Homo sapiens: one gene and its partners. The protein of the gene in region 4 purifies or fractionates together with the protein of the main gene of each other region. This does not show direct contact. Each region holds a gene or a part of one and is shown on either strand. Other genes may lie near its edges.

The links.
Region 1: the proteins of ZHX2 (region 4) and USP49 purify together in Homo sapiens (affinity purification with western blotting, with the first as the bait; one study listed by BioGRID). This does not show direct contact.
Region 2: the proteins of ZHX2 (region 4) and RELB purify together in Homo sapiens (affinity purification with western blotting, with the first as the bait; one study listed by BioGRID). This does not show direct contact.
Region 3: the proteins of ZHX2 (region 4) and USP50 purify together in Homo sapiens (affinity purification with western blotting, with the first as the bait; one study listed by BioGRID). This does not show direct contact.

The regions. Positions count from the first base shown.
Region 1 is NC_000006.12:41,797,876-41,801,375, reverse strand, and holds part of USP49 (ubiquitin carboxyl-terminal hydrolase 49), read left to right. Parts: intron 1-1,437; coding exon 1,438-1,546; intron 1,547-2,446; coding exon 2,447-2,652; coding exon of another isoform or gene 2,653-2,699; exon of another isoform or gene 2,700-3,500. UniProt on the Homo sapiens protein: Deubiquitinase that plays a role in several cellular processes including transcriptional regulation, cell cycle progression or innate immunity.
Region 2 is NC_000019.10:45,021,964-45,025,463, reverse strand, and holds part of RELB (transcription factor RelB), read right to left. Parts: intron 3,412-3,500; coding exon 3,254-3,411; intron 3,227-3,253; exon of another isoform or gene 2,992-3,226; coding exon of another isoform or gene 2,948-2,991; intron 136-2,947; coding exon 44-135; intron 1-43.
Region 3 is NC_000015.10:50,529,667-50,533,166, forward strand, and holds part of USP50 (ubiquitin carboxyl-terminal hydrolase 50), read right to left. Parts: intron 2,562-3,500; exon of another isoform or gene 2,346-2,561; intron 264-2,345; coding exon 131-263; intron 1-130. UniProt on the Homo sapiens protein: Deubiquitinating enzyme that removes conjugated ubiquitin from specific proteins to regulate different cellular processes. Regulates the inflammasome signaling pathway by deubiquitinating 'Lys-63'-linked polyubiquitination of the PYCARD/ASC adapter protein.
Region 4 is NC_000008.11:122,952,655-122,956,154, forward strand, and holds part of ZHX2 (zinc fingers and homeoboxes protein 2), read left to right. Parts: coding exon 1-1,370; 3' UTR 1,371-1,374; exon of another isoform or gene 1,375-2,883; intron 2,884-3,500. UniProt on the Homo sapiens protein: Acts as a transcriptional repressor. Represses the promoter activity of the CDC25C gene stimulated by NFYA.

The sequences.
Region 1 (3,500 bases), on a different chromosome or scaffold from region 4:
CATCATCTGGCTGTGATTTGCTACCTTTCATGAGTAGTACAGACAGGACTTGGAATCAGATGCCCAGCTGCTCTTCAAACACTGAGCCCATGATATCAACAGCTCAAGACAATTAACAGGGACTGCAGTAGACCACTAATTTTCTACTCTCATCCATTTACCAATTTAATATAACAAAACAGTCATCAGTAAATGGTTACAGGAAAGGCTTCTGATAGAAACTAAGAGAACTCTATTTCCATTATTTATTTGCTGAAATTTAGAAATGCATTTCCTCAAGGCTGGGCACAGTGGGCTCACACCCATAATCCCAACACTTTGGGAGGCCAAGGTGGGAGGACTGCTTGAAGCCAGGACTTCGAGAAATGCATTTCCCCCACAGTTAGAAACAAAATTAGAGACTGATCACTGGTTCTGCTTTGGAGTAGATGAATTTAGCCTACCTGTCAGCTTTGTCCTTGCATGTCCAGCAATGTGCTTTTATCTAGGAAATATGTTTCAAAAACTACGCACAGCATAAAAATATAAAACAGTTTATTTTCTAAATGTTTGAATATGCCATAAGCAAATCATGCTAAAGAAAAAAATGTGTTTAAATACTCTATCATTTAGTAATCTTATCCTTTTTTTCCTAAGCCTGAAAGATATGCATTATTTCCTATTTTACTGGTGAGGAAACTGAGGTTCAGAGTTTTGAATAACTTATCCATTAGCACACAACTAGTTGTGAGCAGGAAGTAGAATTAGGCTTACCTAGTGCAAACAAAAAGCTTTTTAAAATCATATTGTGGGGTATCATAATTGAAGTTATAAGCCATTGTGAAGACATGGAACCTTAACATATGCTTCTACTCTATGTGCTTGCTGCTGCACGTTCCATTATATTCCATTATACGCAAAGTTGCTGATGGCAAAAATTGGAAAGATTTGAGTTGCTTGTAACAGTCGACCCAAATAACAATGACTTAAAATGAGAGATTTTATTGTTCTGTTACATAAAACAAGTCTGAAGGACATTCAGGGCCAGCATGGTGGCTGCATGGTCATCAGTGACCCAAGCTATTTCTGTTTTCTGTTTTACTATCCCATTGCAAGACTTCTGTCTTCAAAGTTACCTTTTGGTCCAGGAGGAATTCCAGCAGTTTCAGATAGTGGGAAGGCCAAAGGGATGTGCCTTACAACTGAGTCAGCCCTGTCTAAGCAGAGTCCCACACAGTCATTCCTTTCATCTTAGCCAGAACTTCCATGGCCACACCATGCAGGCGTGTGAAGCTGGGAAATGCAGTCATAAAGAGTGTCACATTGCGCCCCCCAAAAAATTGAGGTTCAGATACTGAGAAATATGGAGAATGCATATTGAATGGCAAGTCACTGTCTCTGCCATAGCTAGAAAAAACTCCTCACAACCTATGTCTTATACCTTCCCAAACCACATAGGCAAACGACGAAAATCCAATCCCAAACCCCTTGTTCTGAGTGAAGCTAGAAAGCAGTTAATGATCTACAGACTACCTCAGGTTCTCCGGCTGCACCTTAAAAGATTCAGGTGAGCTTGCTGTGGGAGTCCCAGCTGGGTGAGAGCTGTGGGAATAGCTGCTCCAAAGGCTTTGGTGAGGGCAAATGTCTTCTATGGTGTTGGGAGGGGAAGCCTGTTCACTTGAGACCTCGTGTTTTCCATGGAGATTAAACTGTTCACATCCACTAAGGCAAATTGATGTGGGAGCCCAGCAGGACTGGGCTTTTGCTCTCATGCTCCTGTGTAATTAATTATCCAGCCTGCACTGGGTGTCTGTGCTTAAAGATTTTCTAGCCTGGCTTGGACTTATGTAGATTCATCTTCAGGATGAAGTATAAAATAATCTGCAAAAGAAGCACAGGCAGGAAACTACAAAAAGACTGTTGCTTGAATTGCTTGTTTAGGGATCTCTAGGTTTAGAGTACTTCATGGAACATTAACAGCAAATAAATGGGCCAGGCGCAGTGGCTCATGACTGTAACCCTAGAACTTTGGGAGGCCAAGGTAGGCAGATTGCTTGAGCTCAGGAGTTTGAGACCAGCCTCGGCAACATGGTTAAAACCCTGTCTCTACAAAAAATGCAAAAATTAGCCAGGCATGGTGGTGTGCACCTATAGTCCCACCTACTCGGGAGGCTGAGGTGGGGGGATCACCTGAGCTCGGGAAGGTTGAAGCTGCAGTGAGCCTTTATCAATCACACCACTGCACTGCAGCCTGGGCAACAGAGTGAGACCCTGTCTGAAAATAAATAAATAAATAAATAAATAAATAAATAAATAAGTGTGAACATTGATTACCACCATTTTATTGATGGGAAAACCAAAACCAGAAGGTTAAATTTTCTCAGTTTCCTGTTTTATTAATACCTACCTCTACCTACGATTATATATGCCAGTTTTTACTAGTAACAAGCTTATATCCATGTTCTAGGTGGTCTGGCCGTAATCATCGAGAGAAGATTGGGGTCCATGTCGTCTTTGACCAGGTATTAACCATGGAACCTTACTGCTGCAGGGACATGCTCTCCTCTCTTGACAAAGAGACCTTTGCCTATGATCTCTCCGCAGTGGTCATGCATCACGGGAAAGGGTTTGGCTCAGGACACTACACAGCCTATTGCTACAACACAGAGGGAGGTGCGTGCGCTTTACTCTGTGGGGTGGGGGACACGGAAAGGGGTTGATTTGTCCACATTTTATTGTTTTCCTTTTATTTCCATCCCATGGATTACCTAGAGGGAAATTACATACATCAAAAATCCAGTGGAAAGAATTGTGAAAATTGGGTTGGGCGCCGTGGCTCACACCTGTAATCCTAGCGCTTTGGGAGGCCGCGGTGGGTGGATCACCTGAGGTCAGGAGTTCGAGACCAGCCTGGCCAACATGGTTAAACCCCGTCTCTACTAAAATAGTACAAAAATTAGCCGGGCGTGGTGGTGGGCACTGGTAATCCCAGGTACTCAAGAGGCTGAGGCAGGAGAATCGCTTGAACCTGGGAGGCAGAGGTTGCAGTGAGCCAAGATTATGCCACTGCACTTCAGCCTGGGTGACAGAGCAAGACTCTTATCTCAAAAAAAATAAAAAGAATTATGAAAGTTGGATTCAAATTTTGGGTATATTACTAAGTAACAACATATGGTTGTTCTAAGAATTAAAAGGAACTGACATGTAAAAGTGCTTAGAACAGGACCTAGGCCCTGTGCAATGGCTCACACCTGTAATTCCAACACTTTGGGAGGCAGAGGCGGGAGGATTGCTTGAGGCCGAGGGTTCAAGACTAGCCTGGGCAACATAGCGAGACTGCATCTCTACAAAAAATTTAAAAATTATCCAGGTGTAATGGTGTGCACCTGTGATCCTAGCTACTTGGGAGGCTGAGGTGGGAGAATTGCTCAAGCCCAGGAGTTTGAAGTTGCAATGAGCTATGATTTCACCACTGCATTCTAGCCTGGGCAACAGAGTGAGATCCTGACTCAAATAAATAA
Region 2 (3,500 bases), on a different chromosome or scaffold from region 4:
GTTTGGGAGGACGGGATGGTCAGGTCAGGCAGGGGGTGCTCACCGTTGTAGGGGTCAATGCCCAGTTGAATCTTCCGCTCAATGGCAGCCTCAATCTCCTTCTTCCTCACACACTGGATGCCCAGGTTGTTAAAACTGAGGGGGTGACGGGGGAGGGAGAGGAGTGCTCGTGAGCAGGCAAGTGTGGCCCTAACCTGCAGGAGGGCTCTGGCAGATGCTGCTGTGGGGCTCAGGCTCTCAGGGGCTGACATCCCAGGCCCAGGGGTCCCAGCATTAGAAACGGTCTGGGGTTTAAACCTCTCAGAAGGCCAGCGCGGTGGCTCACACCTGTAATCCCAGCACTTTGGGAGGCCGAGGCAGGAGGATCACTTGAGGTCAGTAGTTCAAGACCAGCATGGCCAACATGGTGAAACCCTGTCTCTACTAAAAATACAAAAATTAGCAGACATAGTAGTGCATGCCTGTAATCCCAGCTACTCGGGAGGCTGAGGCAAAAGAATCACTTGAACCCGGGAGGCAGAGGTTGCAGTGAGCCGAGATTGTGCCACTGCACTCCAGCCTGGGCAACAGAGTTAGACACCATCTCAAACAATAAAAAATAAAATAAACCTTTTGGCCAGACGTGGTGGCTCACATCTGTAGAATCCCAGCACTTTGGGAGGCCAAGGTGGGCAGATCACGAGGTCAAGAGAGGGACACCATCCTGGCCAGCATGGTGAAGCCCTGTCTCTACTAAAAATACAAAAATTAGCTGGGTGTGGTGGCGCACACCTGTAATCCCAGCTACTCAGGAGGCTGAGGCAGGAGAATTGCTTGAGCCCGGGAGGTAGAGGTTGCAGAGAGATGAGATCATGCCACTGCACTTCAGCCTGGCGACAGAGCAAGAATCTGTCTCAAAAAATAAAAATAAGCATGTCAAAGGTTCTTGAGAAGATCCAGAACATGCCTTATCTTTACCATGTGAGAACACTGGCCAACTTCATCTTTAATAGGAAAACTTCAGGCCGGGCGTGGTGGCTCACGCCTGTAATCCCATCACTTTGGGAGGCCGATACGGGCAGATCAGGAGGTCAGGAGATCGAGACCACCTTGGCTAACACGGTGAAACCCCGCCTCTACTAAAAATACAAAAAAATTAGCCAGGCATGGTGGCGGGTGCCTGTAGTCCCAGCTACTCGGGAGGCTGAGGCAGGAGAATGGCGTGAGCCTGGGAGGCGGAGTTTGCAGTGAGCCGAGATCGCGCCACTGCACTCCAGCCTGGGCGACAAAGCGAGACTCCGTCTCAAAATAAATAAATAAATAAATAAAATAAGAAAACTTCAGGGCCAGGTGCGGTGGCTCACGCCTGTAATCCCAGCACTTTGGGAGGCCGAGGCGGGTGGGTCACAAGGTCAGAATTTTGAGATCAGCCTGACCAACGTGGTGAAACCCCGTCTCTACTAAAAATACAAAAATTGGAGGCCGAGGCGGGTGGGTCACAAGGTCAGAATTTTGAGATCAGCCTGACCAACGTGGTGAAACCCCGTCTCTACTAAAAATACAAAAATTAGCCAGGTGTGGTGGCTGGCGCCTGTAATCCCAGCTACCTGGGAGGCTGAGGCAGGAGAATCGTTTGAATCCAGGAGGCAGAGATTGCAGTGAGCAGAGATCGTGCCATTGCACTCCAGCCTGGGTGACAGAGTGAGACTCGGTCTCAAAAAAAAAAAAAAAAAAAAAAAAAAAAGAGGCTGGGCACAGTGGGCTCACACCTGTAATCCCAGCACTTTGGGAGGCCGAGGCGGGCGGATCACGAGGTCAGGAGATGGTAACCATCCTGGCTAACACGGCGAAACCCCGTCTGTACTAAAAATACAAAAAAAATAGCCGGGTGTGGTGGTGGGCGCCTGCAGTCCCAGCTACTTGCGAGGCTGAGGCAGGAGAATCACTTGAACCCAGGAGGCAGAGCTTGCAGTGAGCCGAGATCGCGCCACTGCATTCCAGCCTGGGCGACAGAGCGAGACTCTGTCTGAAAGAAAGAAAGAAAGAAGGACGGAAGGAAGGAAGGAAGGAAGGAAGGAAGGAAGGAAGGAAAGAAAACTGCAAATTAAACACCAATGAAGATGCCTTTGTTTTGGGGCACTCATCAAAATAGCAAAAATCAAAATGTTTCATAATACTCGGTGCTGGTGAGGTTGTGGAGAATCAGGTGCTCTCACCCATTACTGATGGGTCTGTAAATTGCATAACATGGCAGTATTCATTCATTCCACAAATATTTCCTGAGCACCTACTATGTGCCAGTTACTATGCCAGACACTCGGAATACAGCAGGGAATGTAAGAGACAAGATCTCTGCTCTCGGAACTTATATTTTCACTAAGTTTAAAAATTTCTAAAATTAAATCTTCCAGACCTGAGTGTGAGCAATACTCAGCCCTACCTCTGAAGTGCGTGCTGCCTTTAGGGCTCTACCCAAAGTCAGTGTAACACAGTGAAGTGTGTCACTACCTTTCTGTCTCTTTGCACTATGAAAAAATGCTCAAAGTTTTAGATGTAGCCACTGTATGTTGTGTAAGCATTTGTGGACATATGCAAAATAAAAGTTATACAGTGCTTCTGTTTTAAAAAGAAAGAAAAGGCCGGCACGGTGGCTCATGCCTGTAATCCCAGCACTTTGGGAGGCCGAGCTGGGAGGATCACCTAAGGTCAGCAGTTCGAGACCAGCCTGGTCAACATGGTGAAACCCCATTTCTACTAAAAATCCAAAAAATTCGCTGGGTGTAGTGTCGCATGCCTGTAATCTCAGCTACTCGGGAGTCTGGGGCAGGAGAATCACTTGAATCCGGGAGGTGGAGGTTGGAGTGAGCTGAGATCGAACCATTGCACTCCAGCTTGGGCAACAAGAGCAAAACTCCGTCCCAAAAAAAAAAAAAAAAAGATGAATTGTAAAGTAAGAGAAAGAACAGACCTTGCAGTTAAGTCAGGTCTGCAGTCAAATCCCAGCTCTGTCATCAATTATCTGTGCTCCTTACCCTCTCTGAGCCTCAGTTTCTTCCTCTACAAAATAGGGATAAAATGTATGTGAATATGTGTGTGGCAAGGCTCCAGGCCTAAGTGAGGCCCTCCACTGTCCCCAGGCCTGTCTCCCACCTAGAAGAGGCAGTGGGGAGGGTTTACCCAAGCTGCCCTCTGCTCTAAAGTTTCATGGGTGGCCTCCAGTCGCTTAGAATCTCCATGATCAAGGATGAGAGGTCGGAGGTCAGGGGGTGGGTACCTGTGCCGGGGGCTGACGTGAGGCCGGAGCCGCACCCTGCAGATGCCGTCGGTGCAGTCTTTCCCCACGAGGCTGTGGGGGTGGACTCGGTGAGGCCAGTCCTTCCACACCAGGCAGGCAGTCACCTCCACCTCCCGCAGCCCTCCACAATCCCGGAGCTGCAGGAAGAGAAGTCCTCTTTGGGGGTCCCATCACCGATGCCTGCGTCCATCCAAACTCCTTGGGGCCTTCCTTGGCAGCTCCCCAA
Region 3 (3,500 bases), on a different chromosome or scaffold from region 4:
AGTTTCCTGGTCTATATTTTTTAAAAGTAGGGCATAAGCCAGGGAGAGACAGGAGAAATAGGGATTCAAGCAGATAATTCTGGAGTTTTCTTTAAAATTGGATTACTTTTAACAGTTTGTTTTTACTCACCACCACTGCACAGAGGTTGTATTTAGGATATTTCCGGAAAATTGAGCAAATATAAGGAGTGAGGTCCAAGTTAGTGAGTGGGTAATGAATATCCGTTCTCAGCTTCCTTTTTGTTGTACCCTGAATGTCAAACCTGCAGGTATAATAAATGTGTGAAATACAAAGTAAGCTTGTGAACCACTCATTTGTCTACATGACAAATTCCGAGTATTTTAAAAGTAATTTCTTGACTGGGCACAGTGGCTCATGCCTGTAATCCCACAACTTTGGGAGGCCAAGGTGGACATATCCCTTGAGCCTAGGAGTTTGAGACCAGCCTGAGTAACATGGCAAAACCCCGTCTCTACATAAAATTCTCACCTGTAGTCCCAGCTACTCAGGAGGCTAAGGTAGGAGGATCACCTGAGCATAGGGAGGCTGAGGCTGCAGTGAGTCGTGATTGTGCCACTGCACTCCAGCCTGGGTGACAGAGTGAGACCCTGTCTCTAAAAAAAAGGAACTTCTGGCCTGGCAAGGTGGCTCACGCCTGTAATCCTAGCACTTTGGGAGGCTGAGGCGGGTGGATCACTTGAGGTCAGGAGTTAGAACCAGCTTGGCCAATATGGTGAAACCTCGTCTCTACTAAAAATGCAAAAAAATTAGCCGGGCATGGTAGTGGATGCCTGTAATCCCAGCTACTCGGGAGGCTGAGGCCGGAGAATTGCTTGAACCTGGGAGGCGAAGGTTACAGTGAGCTGAGATCGCACCACTGCACTCCAGCCTGGGTGACAGAGCGAGACTCCTTTCCAAAAATAAAAAATAAAAAAAAAAAGTAATTTCCTGGAAAGATTATTTGGTACAGACTTATAAATTACTTTTTTCTTATCTATTTAAATACCGCATCCACAAGCCTCACCAAAATGAGACTGGAATTTGAATCAAGGAGTGAGATAGCAAAGATTCAAGCTAAACTGAATCTAGCAGGGCAAAAAGAAAGGGATAACCAAGGCTCAACATTGGGGGAAGCAGAAACCCCATTGATAATTCCTGAGGCTTTTGCTCCAGCTGAGCCTATTTATTCTAACCAAGCTAGCTCAGCTTTTCCTTATCTTGTTTTCAGCACAGGTAGTCTTGGCAATGTCCTGTTTTCAAGCTCTGAGTTTTTGTTTGTTTTTTTTTAATGTTTTAATAAGAACATTTTGTGAAAATCTTTCACATTCTGTATTGTTACATGGATCCTAAGTTTGTAAATCTGGGCTCACATCAGAGTTACTCAGAAGCTTTTAAAAATATAATTATGTTCATTTTGGAAAAATGGCTGATGGAGGTCTGAGGCCGGGAAATTACCGCGACTGAGACATTCTTGTGTCAGAAAGCAAGATACCCTGTTTTCAAAAAACTAAGGGAATGCCATGTGATCCAGCAATTCTGTACCTAGGTATCATCCCAAGAGAAATGAAGCCTTAGGCCCACATAACAAGCTATCTGCTAGTATTTGTAGAAGTTGTATTCCTAACTATGCAAAACTGTAAACAACCCAAACGTCCATCAACTGGTGGAGACATAAGCAACTATGGTACACTCACAAAAAGGAATAGCACACAGCAATAAAAAAGGCACTACTAATGCACGCAACAACACAAAAGAATCATGCTAAGTGAAAGAAAAACTCTGAAAGCTACATACAGTATGACATAGCACGTTCTGGAAAACAAAATTATAGGGACGGAAATCAGATCAACAATTTCTATAGGCTTAGGGAGGAGAATGATTAGAGAGGAGCATGAGATAACTTTTTGGGGTGATGGAAATGGTTTATATGTTGGTTGTAATGGTTACATGACTGCATGCATTTGTCAGAGTTCATAGAACTGTGCACCTAAAAATGATACATTTTAGGTAAGCATACCCTAATAAACTAATGGGGCCCCAGGAGCTGACTTGAAGGGGCTCCCACTGGCCAATTTTGAACAATTTGAACACCAAAAGCAATGATGAGAGACATCTAGTTTTCAGTTCAACACGTAAGGAAACTTTGAAGTCACCATTCTGTCCTAACAAGTTAAAAGCTAAATAAAGCTTTTGGTTATTTTCCTTCCCTCAGGAAGGAAAGAATTAACCGAAAGGAAAATAAACAGCTCTTCTTAGAGCTGAAAGAGCAGTGAGGTCACAGGACAAACCACTGCCCCCAAAACTGGAAAAACAGACCAGCAAACATAGAGAATCACAGACTTACCAGAGCCAAAACTGCCGAGCAGAAACCTCTGAGGGAACAGGTCTGCGTAGGAAAACCTGAACTGTAATTGATGAATTGCTAGAGGCTCAGTGCAGAGTCTGAGAGTTAAAAACTCCAAAGAATCCAGTCACAGGGGGACCACACTTTGTGAATTTTCCTTCCAGGAGCCCAACCACACTCGCACGGTAAATATTAGAGACAAATCTCCTCATGCTTCTGGCAAGAAGAAGGGAAAGAAACCATTCTGAAATAGGCTAAAGCACCCTGTTCGTAAAGCCTGCCCACAGGAGAAACTCATTAACCAGAGCCTAACCTGCTGGGGTCTTATCAGAGCTTAACTAACCTGGGAGAAGGAAAACACCCAACTCCAGCCCACTCTAGCCATCCTGTTCCACCGAAGCGGGTGTGGAGGGACTGAGCAGCGCTTGTGAAGTTCGTAGTCTGGAGGCTGAAGTTCATTAAAAGACCGAGACCCACTCATAGGATTATGGAACGCTTCCCCTCCCCCTCCGCCTTACCACCCCATCATTAAGGTCTATTTAAGTCAGTTTCTCTTACCCAGTTCATCATATCTGGCTATCAGGAAAAAATTACAAGGCATACTAAAAGGCAAAACACACAGTTTGAAGAGACAGTAAGCATCAGAACCAGATAGCGCAGGGGTGTGGGAATTTTCAGACTAAGAATTTAAAACTGATCAACACACTAAGGGTTCTAACGAATAAAGTAGACAGCATGCAAGAACAGACGGTCAATGTAAGCAGAGACTTGGAAATCCTAAGAATGAACGAATGAACCAAAAGAAATGCTAGAGGTATCCTTGTTAGTACAGTGGTTAGTTTCTTTTCTTTTCTTTTAACTACTAGAGGAAAAAACTGCATCTTCTAACATGTGAAGAATGCCTCTGATGGGCTCATTAGTAGACTGGACACAGCTGAAGAAAGAATCTCTGAGCTTGAGGAACCTCAGTAGAAACTTTTAAAACTGAAAAGAAGAAAGAAAAAAGACTGGCCGGTCAGGCGCAGTGGCTCACGCCTGTATCCCAGCGCTTTGGGAGACCAAGGTGGGAGAATCGCTTGAGCCCAGGAGTTTGAGACCAGCCTGGGCAACAAAGTAAAAGCCCCTCCCCCTGCCCCCACCATGCCTCCTAAAAAA
Region 4 (3,500 bases):
CCAGCGGGTCAACAACCGTCTCTTGCTCCCCCATCACACTTGCCGTGGCAGGAGTCACCAACCATGGCCAGAAGAGACCCTTGGTGACTCCCCAAGCTGCCCCCGAACCCAAGCGTCCACACATCGCTCAGGTGCCAGAGCCCCCACCCAAGGTGGCCAACCCCCCGCTCACACCAGCCAGTGACCGCAAGAAGACAAAGGAGCAGATAGCACATCTCAAGGCCAGCTTTCTCCAGAGCCAGTTCCCTGACGATGCCGAGGTTTACCGGCTCATCGAGGTGACTGGCCTTGCCAGGAGCGAGATCAAGAAGTGGTTCAGTGACCACCGATATCGGTGTCAAAGGGGCATCGTCCACATCACCAGCGAATCCCTTGCCAAAGACCAGTTGGCCATCGCGGCCTCCCGACACGGTCGCACGTATCATGCGTACCCAGACTTTGCCCCCCAGAAGTTCAAAGAGAAAACACAGGGTCAGGTTAAAATCTTGGAAGACAGCTTTTTGAAAAGTTCTTTTCCTACCCAAGCAGAACTGGATCGGCTAAGGGTGGAGACCAAGCTGAGCAGGAGAGAGATCGACTCCTGGTTCTCGGAGAGGCGGAAGCTTCGAGACAGCATGGAACAAGCTGTCTTGGATTCCATGGGGTCTGGCAAAAAAGGCCAAGATGTGGGAGCCCCCAATGGTGCTCTGTCTCGACTCGACCAGCTCTCCGGTGCCCAGTTAACAAGTTCTCTGCCCAGCCCTTCGCCAGCAATTGCAAAAAGTCAAGAACAGGTTCATCTCCTGAGGAGCACGTTTGCAAGAACCCAGTGGCCTACTCCCCAGGAGTACGACCAGTTAGCGGCCAAGACTGGCCTGGTCCGAACTGAGATTGTGCGTTGGTTCAAGGAGAACAGATGCTTGCTGAAAACGGGAACCGTGAAGTGGATGGAGCAGTACCAGCACCAGCCCATGGCAGATGATCACGGCTACGATGCCGTAGCAAGGAAAGCAACAAAACCCATGGCCGAGAGCCCAAAGAACGGGGGTGATGTGGTTCCACAATATTACAAGGACCCCAAAAAGCTCTGCGAAGAGGACTTGGAGAAGTTGGTGACCAGGGTAAAAGTAGGCAGCGAGCCAGCAAAAGACTGTTTGCCAGCAAAGCCCTCAGAGGCCACCTCAGACCGGTCAGAGGGCAGCAGCCGGGACGGCCAGGGTAGCGACGAGAACGAGGAGTCGAGCGTTGTGGATTACGTGGAGGTGACGGTCGGGGAGGAGGATGCGATCTCAGATAGATCAGATAGCTGGAGTCAGGCTGCGGCAGAAGGTGTGTCGGAACTGGCTGAATCAGACTCCGACTGCGTCCCTGCAGAGGCTGGCCAGGCCTAGACAGGTAATTCCACCTGCTCACCCAGGCAGCAGGGGAGAACGCAGCTTGCTTTCTTTTCGTTGCCAGGGTTAATATAGATTGTAGGGTACAGAGATGTTGACACAGATGGTGGCGTCTTTTTCTTGTAATTAACAAATAAGAATGATGTATATTGATCACATACAATATGATGTTTTGAAATATGTTTACCTAGTGGGATGGCTCAGTTAAGCTGATTCCCGTATGCATTACCTCACATACTTATTCTTGTAGTGGAAGGGTCTGGTTTTGGTTTTGGTGTTTTGTTTTGTTTTGTTTTTAGTGACAGAGTCTTGCTCTGCCACCCAGGCTGCAGTGCAGTGGCTCGATCATAGGTCATTGTAGCCTCAAACTCCTGGGCCCAAGCGATCCTCCCCCCTCAGCTTATCAAGTAGCTGGGACTTCAGGCATCTGCCACCACACCCAACTAATATTTTAATATTTTGGTAGAGACGGGGTCTCACTTTGTTGCCCAGGCTGGTCTCAAACTCCTGGACTCAAGGAATTCCTTTGCATCTGCCTCCCAAAGTGCTGGGATTACAGGCATGAGCCACTGAGCCCGGCTGATGAGTTATTTGTAAAGGTTCTTTGAAAAAAGAAGAAAAATGGGGGCTGATGGAACCTACGTCCTCATTTGTAAGGCTGTGCCCAGGGGGCAGCACCGCTGGCTGTGGCCTGTTTGGGCTCCAGCCTTCAGGCCTGTCCATTCTGAAGGTTAGTTTTGACTGTTAGAAAACACATCCTCCCTCTGTGTGTTTTGTGTTTGTTGCTGTAAAAACACCAAACATGAAGAGGTTGTTTCTTTTTTTTTTTCCCCCCTTTTCTTTTTGGATTTTTTAAGAATACATATCCAAGTTTACTGAATCAAAGACCTGAGCTTATTTCTTCTAATCTGAAAAGGCTTTGAAAGTGCTTGATATTTGCCTTGTCAGGGCAAAAGGAAGGTGCCACTGTGCTTGGGTCCCCATAACCCCTTCAAATCTGGAAGAGCCGGGTGTAAATTAGGCCTGTAGAGTCACATAAGCCGGGGGGGGGGGGGTGGCAGGGCGGTTTCCATGGTTACTAATGGCCATGTCATCCCCATAATGGGACATGCCACTGAAGCCCTTGGTATTCTGCTTCCTAAGAGGTCAGTGCAAATCGAGGCCTGAAGCACAGCAGCTTGGTGGTGAGTTGAGAAATGGGGGCAGTGGCAGGGGGAGGGCTGGTGGGAGGGAAAGCAAATATTACAAGGAGGAAGATGCACGATTTGCCCAGGTAGGCTTCTCCAGAGGTCACTTAAAATACCACGGAATGGGCCTCCCAAGTTATCTTTACAAAATATAAAATAAAGGTAAGAACCTCCAGAATGATTGATAAGGTCCCAAAGGCAGCCCTGGAAATTACCACACCTCTGTCTTAATGAACTTGGACAACTTTGGCTGACCACGTCGCTCATTAACTCATTGATTCACTAATAAAATGAGGCAGCTGACAAATAAATGAAATTCTCTAGAAACCTTGTTTTAGCCAGTTCCATCCGCTATTAAAAGAGCACTTTAACGAGCAGCCAATCCCAGAATGCCATCATGTTCCATTCTCCTTTCTCCTCCCACTTGCAGGAGGAAATGCCTGTGTGTCAAGGGTGTGGGCACAACCCAAAGGGGAGGGCGTGAGTGAAAGGAAGGGGATAGAAGTGTACTGAGGTCACAATGACAGCAACTTCCCACCTCTACCTGGCCACCTCTGGCCATTCTCCCACCTTAGAAGAACCTACCAGTCTAGCCCATACCTCCCTCATTAAAATGAGGGAGTGATTTTTTTTTTTTTTTTTTTTTTTGAGACAGAGTCTCACTCTGTTGCCCAGGCTGGAATGCAATGGCACGATCTCAACTCACTGCAACCTCCACCTCTTGGGTTCAAGCAGTTCTCCTGCATCAGCCTCCCGAGTAGCTGGGATTACAGGCATGCGCCACCCCACCCGGCTAATTTTCATATTTTTAGTAGAGACGGGGTTTTGCCGTGTTGGCCAGGCTGATCTCAAACTCCTGACCTCAGATGATCCACCCACCTTGGCCTCCCAAAGTGCTGGGATTACAGGCGTGAGCCACCACGCCCGACCTCCCATCTTC